Linked DNA regions of Homo sapiens. The protein of the gene in region 1 interacts with the protein of each later gene in a biochemical or structural test. Each region holds a gene or a part of one and is shown on either strand. Other genes may lie near its edges.

The links.
Region 2: the proteins of NEDD4 (region 1) and ESS2 interact in a test that uses a peptide from one of them, tested with the Homo sapiens proteins (2 studies listed by BioGRID and IntAct, with this or other methods).
Region 3: the proteins of NEDD4 (region 1) and TNIK form a complex in vitro, tested with the Homo sapiens proteins (2 studies listed by BioGRID).
Region 4: the proteins of NEDD4 (region 1) and GABARAPL2 form a complex in vitro, tested with the Homo sapiens proteins (2 studies listed by BioGRID and IntAct).

The regions. Positions count from the first base shown.
Region 1 is NC_000015.10:55,840,113-55,843,612, forward strand, and holds part of NEDD4 (E3 ubiquitin-protein ligase NEDD4), read right to left. Parts: intron 2,052-3,500; coding exon 1,822-2,051; intron 616-1,821; coding exon 494-615; intron 406-493; coding exon 335-405; intron 1-334. UniProt on the Homo sapiens protein: E3 ubiquitin-protein ligase which accepts ubiquitin from an E2 ubiquitin-conjugating enzyme in the form of a thioester and then directly transfers the ubiquitin to targeted substrates. Specifically ubiquitinates 'Lys-63' in target proteins.
Region 2 is NC_000022.11:19,141,852-19,146,037, forward strand, and holds the start of ESS2 (splicing factor ESS-2 homolog), read right to left. Parts: upstream 2,801-4,186; 5' UTR 2,790-2,800; coding exon 2,655-2,789; intron 2,642-2,654; exon of another isoform or gene 2,273-2,641; intron 1,044-2,272; coding exon 875-1,043; intron 783-874; coding exon 687-782; intron 1-686. UniProt on the Homo sapiens protein: May be involved in pre-mRNA splicing.
Region 3 is NC_000003.12:171,082,906-171,086,405, forward strand, and holds part of TNIK (TRAF2 and NCK-interacting protein kinase), read right to left. Parts: intron 2,325-3,500; coding exon 2,213-2,324; intron 1,421-2,212; coding exon 1,250-1,420; intron 1-1,249. UniProt on the Homo sapiens protein: Serine/threonine kinase that acts as an essential activator of the Wnt signaling pathway. Recruited to promoters of Wnt target genes and required to activate their expression. May act by phosphorylating TCF4/TCF7L2.
Region 4 is NC_000016.10:75,569,379-75,572,878, forward strand, and holds part of GABARAPL2 (gamma-aminobutyric acid receptor-associated protein-like 2), read left to right. Parts: intron 1-3,500. UniProt on the Homo sapiens protein: Ubiquitin-like modifier involved in intra-Golgi traffic. Modulates intra-Golgi transport through coupling between NSF activity and SNAREs activation. It first stimulates the ATPase activity of NSF which in turn stimulates the association with GOSR1.

The sequences.
Region 1 (3,500 bases):
GTATTTAGTGGGATGTTTAATGTTATCTATAACTTACTCTGAAATGCATGAAGAAACTAAGACAGACTGATGGATAGACAGATAGGTATGTGATAAAGTAAATCTAGAAAAAAAGCAATTGTGAGTAGTTGATATACAACTGTCCAATGTAAAATTCTTCCAACTTTATTATATGTTAGAAAATTTTCATAATAAAATGTTGAGGAAAAAGTTCATTTGTATTTTGAAACATGATAATATATTAATTTCCATGTCATTAAAAGCAAATTCTTCAAAATGTTCAAGCTGCTTGTTAAATTATACTTCGTCTATACTATAAGTGAAAAAGACATACCACAGATTCCATATCATGAAGGGTTATTGGTTTGTGAAGCATCATCTTGTAAAATGGGCGGATGAAAAAACCTTGCAAAAAACCAAATACATTTAGGATGATTACCAAGTGAAAGAAAACAGGTAATTATATTGTAAAAAGTTTATACTTAATACTAACCATCCAACAGTTTGCCATGATAAACTGCCATTCCAGCTACCCGACCAATAAACTTGAAGTAAGAGAGGTGATCTTCGTTACACAATCCAGAGTTTGGATTTATCTGTAGGGTATAATTGTCCCTGTAAAGACAACCCCATTTAAATACTTCATTTGAAAAACTTTAATATGACAAATAATTACAAATAATCTTCCTCCTTTAAGAGTTGTTTACCACTGTTAGAACCACATTCCTCCACTGGATTTAATGGTTTTAAAAATAGTAATTTCTGTCAAAAAGTGGAAATAACCCAAATGTCCTTTGGCAGATGAATGTATAAACAAAGTTTTGTTTGTTCGTTTGTTTTTGAGATGGAGTCTTGCTCTCGCCCAGGCTGGAGTGCAATGACACGGTCACAGCTCACTGCAACCTCCGCCTCCCAGGTTCAAGTGATTCTCCTGTCTCAGCCTCCCAAGTAGCTGGAATTACAGGCGCCCGCCACCATGCCTGGTTAATTTTTGTATTTTTAGTAGAGACAGGGTTTCACTATGTTGGTCAGGCTGGTCTTGAACTCCTGGCATTGTGATCCACCAGCCTTGGCCTCCCAAAGTGGTGGGATTACAGGCATGAGCCACCACGCCCAGCCTAAACAAAGCATTATATGCAAAAATAATGGAATATTATTCTGCCTTAAAAAGGAAGGACATTCTGATACATACTACAACATGGATGAACCCTGAAGACATCATGTTAAGTGAAATGAGCTGGTCACAAAAAGACAAATATTGAATGATTCCACTTATGTGAGGTACCCGAGGAGTCAAATTCATAGGGACAGAAAGCAGAATGGTGGCTGCCAGGGAATGGGGAGCGAGTGCTTACTGGGTATAGGGTTTCATTTTGGGAAGATGAAAAAGTTCTAGAGTTGGATAGTGGGATGGCAGCACAACAATGTGAATGTATGTAATGACTCTAAATTGTATATTTAAAATGGCTAAAATGGTAACTTTTTTTTTTAGAGGAGTCTTGCTCTGTTGCCCAGGCTGGAGTGCAGTGGCGTGATCTCGGCTCCGCCTTCCGGGTTCACGCCATTCTCCTGCCTCAGCCTCCTGAGTAGCTGGGACTACAGGCGCCCGCCACCACGCCTGGGTAAGTTTTTGTATTTTTAGTAGAGACGGGGTTTCACCGTGTTAGCTAGGATGGTCTCGATATCCTGACCTTGTGATCCGCCCGCCTCGGCCTCCCAAAGTGCTGGGATTACAGGCATGAGCCACTGCACCCGGCCGACTCTTACTTTTAAAACAGTGATTTTTCTTTTTCTGCCGATAATCATTGTAAAGGTACTTACGTAGCAGAATATTCAAACAACCCATAATAAGGGTTAAACATTTCCTTTGAGATCAGGAAGAACCATTCTCTGGCAACTCCTCCATAATCCAATCCCTTTTCACCATCAAACTCAATCCACAGTCGAGCCTTCAGGAAGTCTGCTCTCTTGACACCCATAATTCTCCGGTAAGAGTCTTCAAGAACAGTTGCTCGGCGAAGTTTCATTTCAAATTTGTTTGGAATGTCATTCTGAAAATCCAGAGGAGAGACGTACTGTTTAAATCAGTTCAACATAATAACAAACCCATCTCTCATAAAGTTATAACATTCCCTCTACACCCTGTGTCCAAGTCTCTTTTTCCTTACGTAATATACTCAGGGAAAACACAACTAGGTATATTGTCTTGGTTTCCTCTATGGTATGAGACAGTTTCTGCATTTTCTTTAATCACTTAGTAATATAGACTTCTTTACATCTGAAGAAGCTTTTGTTTTTGGAGACAGCTCTGTAGTCCAGGCTGGAGTGCAGTGGCGTGAACATGGCTTACTGCAGCCTCGACCTCATGGGCTCAAGTGATCCTCTTGCTTCCGATTCCTAAGTAACTGGACCACAGGCGCATGCCATCATGCCTGACTAATTTTTTAAGTTTTTGAGGTCTTGCCATCTTGCCCAGGCTGGTCTCAAACTCCTAAGCTCTAGCAATCCTCCCGCCTTGGCCTCCCAAAGTGCTGAGATTACAGGCATAAGCCATGGCACCCGGCCTAAAGAAGCAATTGATGGTGATGGTAATGCCCCCATGAAGGCATTTCGTTAACAGTCCTTTTCATATTAAGTTCCAATGAACACCGTTCTGTGACCTGTAGGATAGCCACTGCCTGCTAGCTGTTGTGCCTGTCTGTTCAGGCTTTTCCCTACCTCTACTTTCCTCCCTGGAGTCTATCTTGCTTCACTCATTAACAGATGGTGACATTTACAGACTGTGCCAGTGATATATTCTGGCTGTGTCCCTACCCAAATCTAATCTTGAATTGTAACTCCCACAATCTCCATGTGTCATGGGAAGAACCTGGTGGGAGGTGATTGAATTATGGGGGCGGATCTTTCCTGCACTGTTCTCATGATAGTGAATGGGTCTCACGACATCTAATGGTTTCTATGCACAAGCTCTCTCTTTGCCTGCTGCCATCCATGTAAGATGTGACTTGCTCCTCCTTGCCTTCTGCCATGATTGTGAGGCCTCCCTAGCCATGTAGAACTGTAGGTCCAATAAACCTCTTCCTTTTGTAAATTGCCTGGTCTCAGGTATGTCTTTATCAGCAGCATGAAAACGGACTAAAACAGCCAGGCATGGGTACCCTGGAATGGCAGGTTAACGTGTTTAACCTCATAACAACACTATGCGAAAGCTACTATTATTGTCTTCATTTTACACATAAAACTGAAGAAGACGACTTAAGAAAGTCTTAGCTCCTGAGTCTGTGCTCTTAATTAATGGAGCTACATTGCCTCACTAATCTTTTGTACGTTCTTTGCTTATGTGACAAATGTACACAACTATGCTTTAGGCAGAACTTATTGTAAATTTTACAAAAGATATATCTAAATATTTTATTCCTCAGTACTTCATGGGCAAATTTCCAGGGGAAACCAGTAAGAGAAAACATGCCATCAATATTCTGTCACCTCCAAAAAAGAAG
Region 2 (4,186 bases), on another chromosome or scaffold:
GGTGGCAGGCGCCTGTAATCCCAGCTATTTGGGAGGCTAAGGCAGGGAGAATTGCTTGAACCTGGGAGGTGGAGGTTGCAGTGAGCCGGGATCACACCATTTTACTCCAGCCTGGGTGACAGAGCGAGACTCTGTGTCAAAAAATTAAAAATAAAATGAAATTAAATAAAATAAAATGTCTTGTGATGAAAAACCAAAGCCAGGCTGGAAGCCACAGAGCACCAGTGGTGTTGTGACTTCACACTGGCAGGTCAAGAAAAGTTTCTCTGAACAGGTAACACCTATGCAGAGATCTACAGGAAGAAACACAGTGAGCCATGCAGTTATCTGGGAAGTGACCAACATGAAGGAAACAAATGGAGAGGCCCTGAGGCATCTTCAGGATAGTAACAAAAGGGGCCTTCCAACATCCATGAAGCCCACAGGGCAGGGCTGGAACACAGCAGAAAAGCCAGCAAGAGCTGGTGAGAGTCCCATTTCACAGAGGCGAGCCATGTGTGGGAGCTGGACCCAGATGTTCTACCACCTAGACCAATGTCCTTTGACTTCACAGGCTGCTATTTACGCAAGACCCCTCAGGAACAAGATGTGGCCTGCAGCCCTCTGGACCACCCCCTCAGGGCCTCACAGGCTAAGATTCCCAGGCAATCCTGACCATGTGACTTAAAGAGGGCACCCTCACTCACCATCCTCCAGGCCTCGGCCGCGGGGCCTGGGCTTGTTGCCCACCACTCCAGTGCCTGCATGCACCTCAGGGGTTTCAAATGTGGCTGGAGTCACATCTAGGGGAAGAGAGGGGGATAAGAATTAGAGTGAGCCTGAAGCGACAGTTCAGCAGGCTTTCCCCTCTCCGCCACCCACAGGGTCCTCATACAGGGTGGCGGGGGCTCCCGGGACATCTTGCCCAAGGCAGAGCCAAACTTGATGGCAATCTGGCGCATCCGTTCCAAGTCTCCATTCTCCTCGGCTTCCAGGTACTCCTTCTGTGCCTGGAGCTTCTCCACATCAGGAAAGAAATCCCTTTGGATGACCGTCTGGAGGCCCTGCAAGGAGAGATCAGAATGAAAGTCAGAGGCCAGGCGCGGTGGCTCACACCTGTAATCCCAACACTTTGGGAGGCCAAGGGAGGTGGATCATGAGGTCAGAAGTTCAAGACCAGCCTGGCCAACATGGTGAAACCCAGTCTCTACTAGAAATACAAAAATTAGCCGGGCGTGGTGGCAGGCACCTGTAATTCCAGCTACGTGGGAGGCTGAAGCAGAAGAATCGCTTAAACTCGGGAGGCGGAGGTTGCAGTGAGCCAAGATCACACCCCTGCACTCCAGCCTGGGCGACAGAGCGAGACCGTCTCAAAAAAAAAAAAAAAAAAGAAAAAAGAAAGTCGGAGCTGCAGTCTGGGTGCTCCTGCCTCACAGGTCCACTGCTGTACATGCTAAGGAACTTGCTGAACCTCCTTCAAATTCTACTTCCCCAATGACTGGGGCTGGATTGAGGGAGCTTGAGGGCACTTTCTAGTGGGGTTGAGCATCCCATATGGTAGCCATGCTGCAACCTCTAACATTACTAAACACTCTTCTGAAGTCCGTGAAACCCTTCTCTCTCGCCCTTGCTAACTGGTCATTCTCATTCTCCATTGCTGGCTCCCCACAAGCCAGACCAATGTGGGTGTTGTCACTTTCATTCCACACATGACTTTCTATTTCCAATCTAAACCTTTCTCCTGGCGGGGCATGGTAGCTCACGCCTGTAATCCCAGCACTTTGAGAGGCCAAGGCGGGCGGATCACCTGAGGTCAGGAGTTCGAGACCAGCCTGGCCAACATGGTGAAACCCCACCACTACTAAAAATACAAAAATTAGCCGGGCGTGGTGGCGGGCACCTGTAGTCACAGCTACTCGGCAGGCTGAGGCAGGAGAATGGCTTGAACCCAGGAGGCAGAGGTTGGTTACAGTAAGCCGAGATCGCGCCACTGCACTCCAGCCTGGACGACGAGCGAGACTCCGTCTCAAAAAATAAAATAAAAATAAACCTTTTTCCTGAGTAACTTCAGCCAGTCACTACCACAAGTTGAGATTCCCAAGTCTGCACCTCCAGCCAGACCTTGCTCCCGAGCTGCATATCTGGGCACCCAACCGTCCGTTAAAGCCATCCATCTACATATCCCAAAAGGTGTCCCGAATTAAACAGGTCTAAAACCAAACTGACTTCCGCCAATCCCCGTTTCAGCTCCTCCTTCTGTGTGCGTGTGGTGGGGCGACGCAGGTCCACTCACTCGAGATGCTGTCACAACTGCGGTCTCTTTCCAGGAACCCCAGCATTCACACTTGCTGCCACCGCTCTTTAGAAAGCCCTCTTTGCCACCATCCTTCCAGTTTGTCAAACTCCTACTCACACTTTAACAGAAAATCTTCTTTCCCTGACCCCCGTCCCATACAAAGAGAGCCGCTCTCTCTTTTCCCTGACAACACTACTACAGCCTCTTCCACCACAGACGTCTTCCTCTGCCCTGTTTACTTGACTCGTGGGACCGTCCACACCCGGCTCCTCCACTTCCACGAGGAGACGGAGTGTCAACACCCGAGAGAGGGAACCTGAGAGGAGCTTGAAGCAGAGGATGGGCCCAGAAGTCGCCGGCGTCCGCACCGAGGTCGTACCTCGATATACTCTTCCTCGTCCAGGACCCGCTGCTTGCTCGTCGCAGCCCCAGCCTCTCCCGCCTCGCGCTTCCTCGGGGGCCTGGACGCGGCGGGAAGCAACAAGGACGACGCTGATGCGCCCGGCGTCTCCATCGCTATCCCAGGAAAAAGCTCGGGCCCAGCAGGCGCGTCACAGGGTGGAGGGGGCGGGACTGCACCATTTGCGCAGGCGCCTCCAATAGTTGGCCAATGGAAAAGCTGTGGCTCTAGAAAGCCAGCCCGCGCTCCGTTCTGACGTCACTATAAATGCTAGACTTTATTGGAAATGTAGTCCTTGTCCTGCCCCGCGCTATTCATGCTTGTCAATGCTGTGAACACGAGGGGGTGCTGTGGAGGTGGCGGGGAGGATGCTATAGGGCGTGTTCTTCACGCGAGAAATTCTGGCTTTGCAGCGTCCAAAGGCCTTAGAATTCTAATTTCCCACAAATAAGAACTATGTATGCTTCGAGATTATTCTACAAAAATACAAACCAGGAAATTTACTTATATAGGAGTTTCAAGCTTTATGCAAGAAAAGGGCCTTAAAACAATTTTTTTTTTGAGACGGAGTTTCGGTCTTGTTGCCCAGGCTGGAGTGCAATGGCATGATCTCGGCTCACCGGAGTTCCCGGGTTCAAGGGATTCTCCTGCCTCAGCCTCCCGAGTAGCTGGGATTACAGGCATGGGCCACCACGCCCGGCTAATTTTGCATTTTTAGTAGAGACAGGGTTTCTCTATGTTGGTCAGGCTGGTCTCTGGATTACAGGCGTGAGCCACCGCACCCGGCCAAAACAATCTTTTTTTTTTTTTTATAGTTATCTAACAAAAGGTGAAAGAACAAGACAGTGGTTCGATTAAGAAATGTCTAAAGATTATTCTGTAATCCCAGAACTTTGAGAGGCCAAGACAGGCGGATCACCTGAGGTCAGGAGTTCTAGACCAGCCTGGCCAACAAGATGAAACCCCATCTCTACTAAAAACACACAAAAAAATTAGCTGGGCATGGTGGTGGACGCCTGTAATCCCAGCTACTCGGAAGGCTGAGGCTGGAGAATTGCTTGAACCCAGGAGGCGGAGGTTGCAGTGAGCTGAGATTGCACCATTGCACTCCAGCCTGGGTAACAAGAGCAAAACTCTGTCAAAAAAAAAAAAAAGATTATTGGGCCCCCAAATGCCAGAGTGGGCTTCCCAGAAGAGGGATCATTCTCATTCAAGACCAGGCACGGTGGCTCACGCCTGTAACCTCAGCACTTTGGGAGACCCAGGCAGGTGGATCACTTGAAGTCAGGAGATTGAGACCAGCCTGGCCAACATGGTGAAACCCCAACTCTACTAAAAAAAAAAAAAAATACAAAGTGGTGGTAGGTGCCTGTAGTCCCAGCTACTTGGGAGGCTGAGGCAGGAAAATCACTCAAACCCAGGAGGTGGAAACTGCAGTGAGCAGAGATTGTGCCACTGCACTACAGCCTGGGTGACAGAGTGAAACTCTGTCAAGAAAAAAAAAAATTAAT
Region 3 (3,500 bases), on another chromosome or scaffold:
CCCTCAAGTTTTTGCTCTTTTTTAGGGAAATGATAAACCCATTCAAGAGAAGTGTTAATAGCTGGAGAGTCACAGACATACTCACTTTAAGGGACTTCTCAGGTCTCTAAATCTAGTGCAGCCCAACACCCATGCAGTAATCCCTATTACAGAAGCACAGGCACATAAGTGGCTTTGTCTGGGTAGTTGTAATCCTAAAAATTTATGGCTAGGGAAATGTATCATCCACCCCTCAACACACACACACATTGAGAGGCTCATTGTGCAGTGTACTTTATTCATGAACATGTAACTCTCTAACTTCTCTTACGTCTTGTACTTCTATCTTCTGATCAACACAAATGTCTGCTTTTTTGTCCATATATTAATCCTTTCAGTATTAAATGTGGCTATCTTGTTCTCTTCTGTCTCTTCTCCAGAGGACAGAGCCTCTATCATGAAATGGTTCCTAGGCTTCACACTCTTCCCCGCTAACATCTCAAATGCTTTCAGCCTTTTAAAATTATGGTTCCCCAATCCAAGCCTAGTATTTTCAGTGGGTACACAGGGGACATGTCCTTCCTTAATCTGTATGAGATGTTTATAGTAACACAGACCAAGACTTTGATAGAATCTCATCATGCCTCTCCTGAGTTTGAGGTCAGCTAAAACCTGCAGATCTTTTTCACGAGAAAATGCAGATTGATGTTTTAAACTAAAAGGGAAAGTTCATTAAATTATTTGTTGTTCTTTTCAAGTTTTATCTTGTTATTGCTAGGGTTATGACCTTTAGTAATTCACAAAAATACTCTGGGCTGATTTTTCAGCTTGAAATAAAGGTTTATGCCATTATTTATGCTCATATTCCCCTTGCAGGATGTGGTATGGATCATGGAGAATGAACGTGGGGTATATCACAAAGTGCCAGACACAAATCGCCTCTGATTGATCACATTATAGGCTTTGCTTTGCCCACTCAATGTATTCAGTGGTAGCTAGTTCTCTTGTTGGCTTTAGCCTATCACTATTGTGTGACAAGGTTGCTCTGAATCTAATCTCGTCTTCCTGGCTAGTAGCGTATCAGCTATTTCTACATATAAAACTCCTTTTGGTTTCTCCTGAGGTCAAGATAGTCCCAAGTTAGGTCTCTAATACCCAGGATTCAACCAGTGTTCTTTTGATGACAAGATCCACAGGCTTTTAATGTTTGAGGGTCAGTTCATTAATGAGTGGTTATTTAAAAAAAAAAAAAAAAAAAGCACCAACATACCCCACAGAGCTGCACAAAGTATTTCTGAGTTGAATCGTTTCTTGTATTTTCTGATTTCTGGTGTGTCGCTATGAGGCCGAATGTTGGTTGGGTTTACATTTACCACCGAAATCTTTCTTGCTTCATTGAGTTTGGCCTGTTCTTGCCTAAGAAGTTCGCTAGTAAACAGAGCTTTGAGAAAAAGAATCAGAGAAGTCAGTGACATCTTAAAAGATAACTTATGGAGATGGGGCTTCAAAACACTATGATTTCTCCTTGTTTGGTTTGAATTATAGTAAAGGCAAGGAAACTCTGAAACTCTCCTTATTTTACACTTTTTTTTTGTTTTAGTAGAATAAAGTCTAAGTCATTCATCAAAGGAATCTTTTATTCATTAGAAAAACAGGCTTATAGACACTACTTGCAGAGTCTAGAAAGTCCCAAATTAAATACACCATCCCCACTCTTGTATATAGGCAAAAAAGATCTACTTTTTAAAATTGCAGTTTATCAGTTGAAAAACTGTCCTAAGCTGACTTTGATGATTAATTACTTGAAGAAGATTAGAAAGCAAGACTCCTTTAAATCAGCCTGATCTTTGTGGTGGGAAGCACACACCTAGAACTCAACACAATGTACCATACACTTATTAAGTGCCTAATGTGTGTAAAACATTGTACCCAGAAATTGTTTTGGGGAAACATTTAGTTATGTTCAGAGATCACTGAGGAACAGCTTTTCCTAGGGTCCCTATGTACCCCTGGGTCTACCAGAAACGAAATAGAAGAGATGGGAAAAAAAATGGAAAGTAATACATTTGTTTTAGGAGTCCTACAGAAATAATAATTTTAAAAAGTCTTCCTTTTAAGATAGGACCTAAGCAGTAATCAGCTTAACTACTGAACTGAGGATTAATTTCCTTATCAGGTCATACCAGAAAGGAAGACGAAGCTGTTTTTTAAACACAGGGCCCTTCTTGCTTACCTGCGGCTGATGATTCCTCATCCTCTTCATCTTCATCAGTGGGAGACGTCTGGTATACTCTGGGGTCCACAAAGGGGGTGAAGGAGGCTTTGGTGCTGCTCCCCATGCCATACTAATCAATAAGCAAGAAGATTAAGAAGAGCAGATAAATACTGCAGGAATAACAATGCTAACAATACTGTGCTTGGGCTGTAAAACGATCACAGATTCTTCAAGGTATTCAGGTGTTCACATTCTAGTGCTCTAGTCAGTGCGTGCCTGTCTCCAGCTTCTTCTGGTATTGGTTACTCACTAGTCATTGTGCATTCGTAGGACTTCATTAATTATCAGACTGCAAGAATTGTAGTGAGAAAATTACATTTTGGACCACATGTGGCACCTTAAAATCTGTAAGATCACTGTGGTGACAGAGCTTACCTCTCCCTTTCAGTAAAAGCAACCTCCTATATTGACTACTTGATCAATATGAAAAGCTGACATAATTGGCAATAAACTAAGTAAGGAAGCCTATACAGCAGTACTTTATCCTGAACAGAGTCAAACCAAGGGGCTTTCTCTTGGGGAGGAGAGCTTTGAGCCCTTCTACTCTGGCCTGGTGATGCAAGTGAATTGGTGTTGGCTCCAAAAGCTTTAAAATCCTCAATTCAGGGATGATTTTATGCTGGAATTGAAGATATTTCCTTCCCACGATAGTTTCCTTAAAAGAATAATTACATTTACATCCTTATTTAGGGACTTCATGAGGATATTACGTTTGTGAGCAATGTACCTTGAAGGCTTACTTTAAAAAATGAATCTTGGGCTTGAATGGCACCATGAAAACATGATGTCAGAAGGAGATGAGGGAACAGTAAACTCAATATCAGGGTTTTATGTCACAATATTCTAAATTTGAGTTTTGCTGAATAAGCTGCAATGTCAGTCATGTCCATTTCTTCTATTCTTGTCCTTTAACATCATAAACACATCTGTATTCAACATAATAAGCACATCTTTTTTGGATAAATATCTTTAACTAAAGGTTATTTCACTTTAGTTTTACTGTTAGGTTTTTATTTAAAAATAAAACCACCATCCAAGACCTCTAAACATATAAGGAGAAAACCACAAAGATCTAATCTGATTTAATTCAAGATTTTCTTTCCATCCTATGAAATCAAAACCATTTCATCCTCCTCAAGGTTGAATTCCCCCTACCAAATAGAACACTTTCACGTACATGTTCTCTTTTGATCTTTGGAAGATGTCTGTGAAAGAGGTAGGGCAGGCACTAACATTTCCACATAGA
Region 4 (3,500 bases), on another chromosome or scaffold:
GGAAGCTGTGGTGTTGCTTGAGGAGATCTTGTCACCCATGGGGCTCTTCTAACCTTCCTTCCCAGGCCTCTGGGCTGTGTCTTCACCAGGGGAGGAAGCCTTGGGCATCCGTGGTTACCCTGGGCTTTCCTTAACGTGTTTGGGGAGGTAATCTTCTTTCATAACATCTGCAACTTCTACAGAGCCTTGGTGACTCTGTGTTTTGTACTTCCTGGAGGTGTTGGCTTAGTGGGAGAAAATAAGTGACTAGGACCTATGGCATTGAGTTTATTTTCCTCAATTCTGATTCTCTGGTTCTTCTCAAAGGAAATGAAGCAGGCTTCTGGAGACCTTAAGATTACTCAGATGGCTCCACAGTAATCTAGCAATTAAAATGGCTACAGGTCTTATCAACTTCCCCTCCCCCGTTATCCCTGAGATAGAAATAGAATTGGAAATGAAAAATGATTTTTCAGGGCAGCAGAGACTGTTTCAAGCCATTTTCTCTCCAAGTCCCATTTGCCTTTCCAGTGTGGTGAGAATCAACCCTAAAGCAGATTACACTGGTAACTCAAGTCAGGATTTTAGGGCCGAGTAGCCAGAAATCCAGCTCCTGACCCTTCAGGATTTAGAGTCACCAGCTAGGGCCCTTTTGCCCAGGCTGTCAGCTCTTTGGCCCCAGTTAATGACTTATCACCCTACACTTAATGCAACTGTTTATTTTGGGGTTTTATTCTCAGAAGTAATTTTTTTTTTGAGACAGAGTCTCACTCTGTTGCCCAGATTGCAGTGCAGTGGTGCAATCTGAGCTCACTACAATCTCTGCCTCCTAGGTTCAAGTGATCCTCTCACCTCAGCCTCCCTAATAACTGGGACAGGACCACAGGTGCATGTCACCACACCGGGCTAAAAATATAAATTTGTTTCTAAACATAAGAGGCGTGTGACATCATTGGGCTTTATGCAATATATAAATCACCCATAAACATAAAAAGTGCTACAGGGTCCTTCCTAAAGCTGGCTGTGATTCAGCTTCACCATCTCTTCCCCAAGACAATTTAGCAGCCTCTTCCTCAGGTCTTTTCAGCTTCCTTAGGGGAGCATGGAGCCTCCCTTAACCTTCATGCAGTGCTTGCTGGCTTCAAAGAGTGGCTGGGGAAATTAGAGAAGGGACGAATTCAGGCCTGCAGGAGCCCTCCCTCTCCGGTGACTGACTGGTCTGCATGAAGATCAATTATGTCTGAGGCTGAAGGGGAGTGAGTTCTCAGTTATTTCTGCCTTGGAGTGGAAAACAGGCGGTCACCATGTAAAGTGTCATGATTTTTATTTAGAGTAGTTAGTATTAAATATTGATTCTATAAATAGAGACAGAGGCAAGTCCCTAAGTTTTACTTCCTAAATTCTAAGTTCTTGTTTCATTTAAAAAAGAGGGAATCACAATGGCCTTTTCCCATTTAGCATTGGAAAGTTGAATTCTCTGCCTAGGTGCCAGCATCAAGAATCAGGCCAAAAACGGAATGGGGAACCATGCCTTTGTTCAGACAGAACTTCAGAAAAAACATCAGTGTACAAGTTTCCTAGTCATGACGTTAGAGGGGAACTCAGACCTGGCAGTGAATGGTCTTTGGTCTTTGTTTGTTTAGAACATAGATAAGAGTCTTGTTAATCCCCTGTTTAAAATAGAAACAGGAGTATATCATTAAATATAATATCTCTAAGATATTATTTTTTATTGTTGTTGAGACAAGGTCTTGCTCTGTCACCCTGGCTGGAGTGCAGTGGCACAGTCATAGCTCACTGCAGCCTTGAACTCCTGGGCTTGAGAAGTCCTCCTACCTCACCAGGTTGGTCTCAAACTCCTGGCTACAGGTGATCCTCCTGCTTTGGCCTCCCAGAGTGCTGGGATTATGGGTGTTACCCACCATGCCTGGCCAGATATTATAACTGACATTGGGAAACCTGTGCTGTTTAAGAATATGGTGTTTATTTGCTTCTGGATCTTAAAGAGATCTTCAGTAAAAGGAAGTTGTGATGTTTTGGAAATGAAAAGTGATTTTCAGGGCAACAGAGACTGCTTCAAGGCCATTTTCTCTCCAAGTCCCATTTGCCTTTCCATTCTGCTGAGAATCCACCCTAAAGCAGATTATACCAGTAACCCAAGTCAGGATTTTAGGACAGAGTAACCAGAAATCCAATTCCTGACCCTTCAGGCCCAATTAATGACTTCTCACCCCACACTTAATCATCCTTTATTTAGAAATGTGCTTAAAGCACTTTGATCATTTCTGGGTAAATACCTCTTTAAGGACAGGACTTTTTTTTTTTTTTTGGAGACGGAGTTTCACTCATGTCGCCCAGGCTAGAGTGCCCAGGCAGTGGCGCGATCTCAGCTCACTGCAACCTCTGCCTCCCAGCTTCAAGCGATTCTCCTGCCTCTGCCCCCTAGTAGCTGGGATTACAGGCGACTGCCACCACGCCCGGCTACTTTTTTTGTATTTTTAGTAGAGACGGGTTTTACCATGTTGGCCAGGCTGGTCTCTTAACTCCTGACCTCAGGTGATTCGCCGACCTTGGCCTCCCAAAGTGCTGGGATTACAGGCGTGAGCCACTGCTCCCGGCCTAGTTGTTCTTTTTATCAGATAAATATGTTCTGTCCTAGGCCGTGTGTGGTGGCGGTCGCCGGTAATCCCAGCTACTCGGGGGCTGAGGCAGGAGAATCGCTTGAAGCTGGGAGGAGGAGGTTGTGGTGAGCCAAGATCACGCCACTGCACTCCAGCCTGGGTGACATGAGTGAAACTGTCTCAAAACAAAAAAAGGAACAACAACCAGTGGTTAATCTTTTTATTTTAGAATCTTGGGGAGCCTCAGGGCCTTATTAACTTTCACTGTGAAGCCAGTGCCTCTCCAGGATTGACAGTAGTGGTCACTGCCCTTCCACCTCCCACCACCCATCCTGCCCTGCTGGAGAAGAGATAATCCAAGGTCCAGTGGAAGCGCGTGGACTCCAAAGCAGATGGGTGGCCAGGTGTGCTCATCAGCCCAGCCAATTCATGAGTCGGTGTAGACCCCACAGCCTCCATGACCTGCCCTTGGTTGGGGCGAACGTAGGTTCTCTAGGGATTGGGCATCCATACAGTTCTAGGTCAGCCTCTCCCAATGCATAGCGCTGTTGGTAGCATAAACTGATGTCTGTCTTGAGTCACATGGCCATTCCTGGATGTAGGTCTTGCTGCAACTTTCCTTTTTTTATTGCACAGTTTCTCCACTGGAGAAGTGGTTTTACCTGGATCTGTGTCATTCAGTGGAGGGGTTGGGGAGAGGGCTTTAGGGGGCAGTTTAAATTCATTTTCACATAGTACTTCAGGGTCCCACTTCACCTTAGATTAGCTCCATGGCTTGAATCTACCACTGGCTTTACCCGTTTCTTTCTTTGCCAGACTCAGAGCTTGGAAGGTGGCAGTGCTTCTGTACTCAGAGCAGCATCTTTCTCAGATGAATGCGTGTGGTACTTGATGCCACAG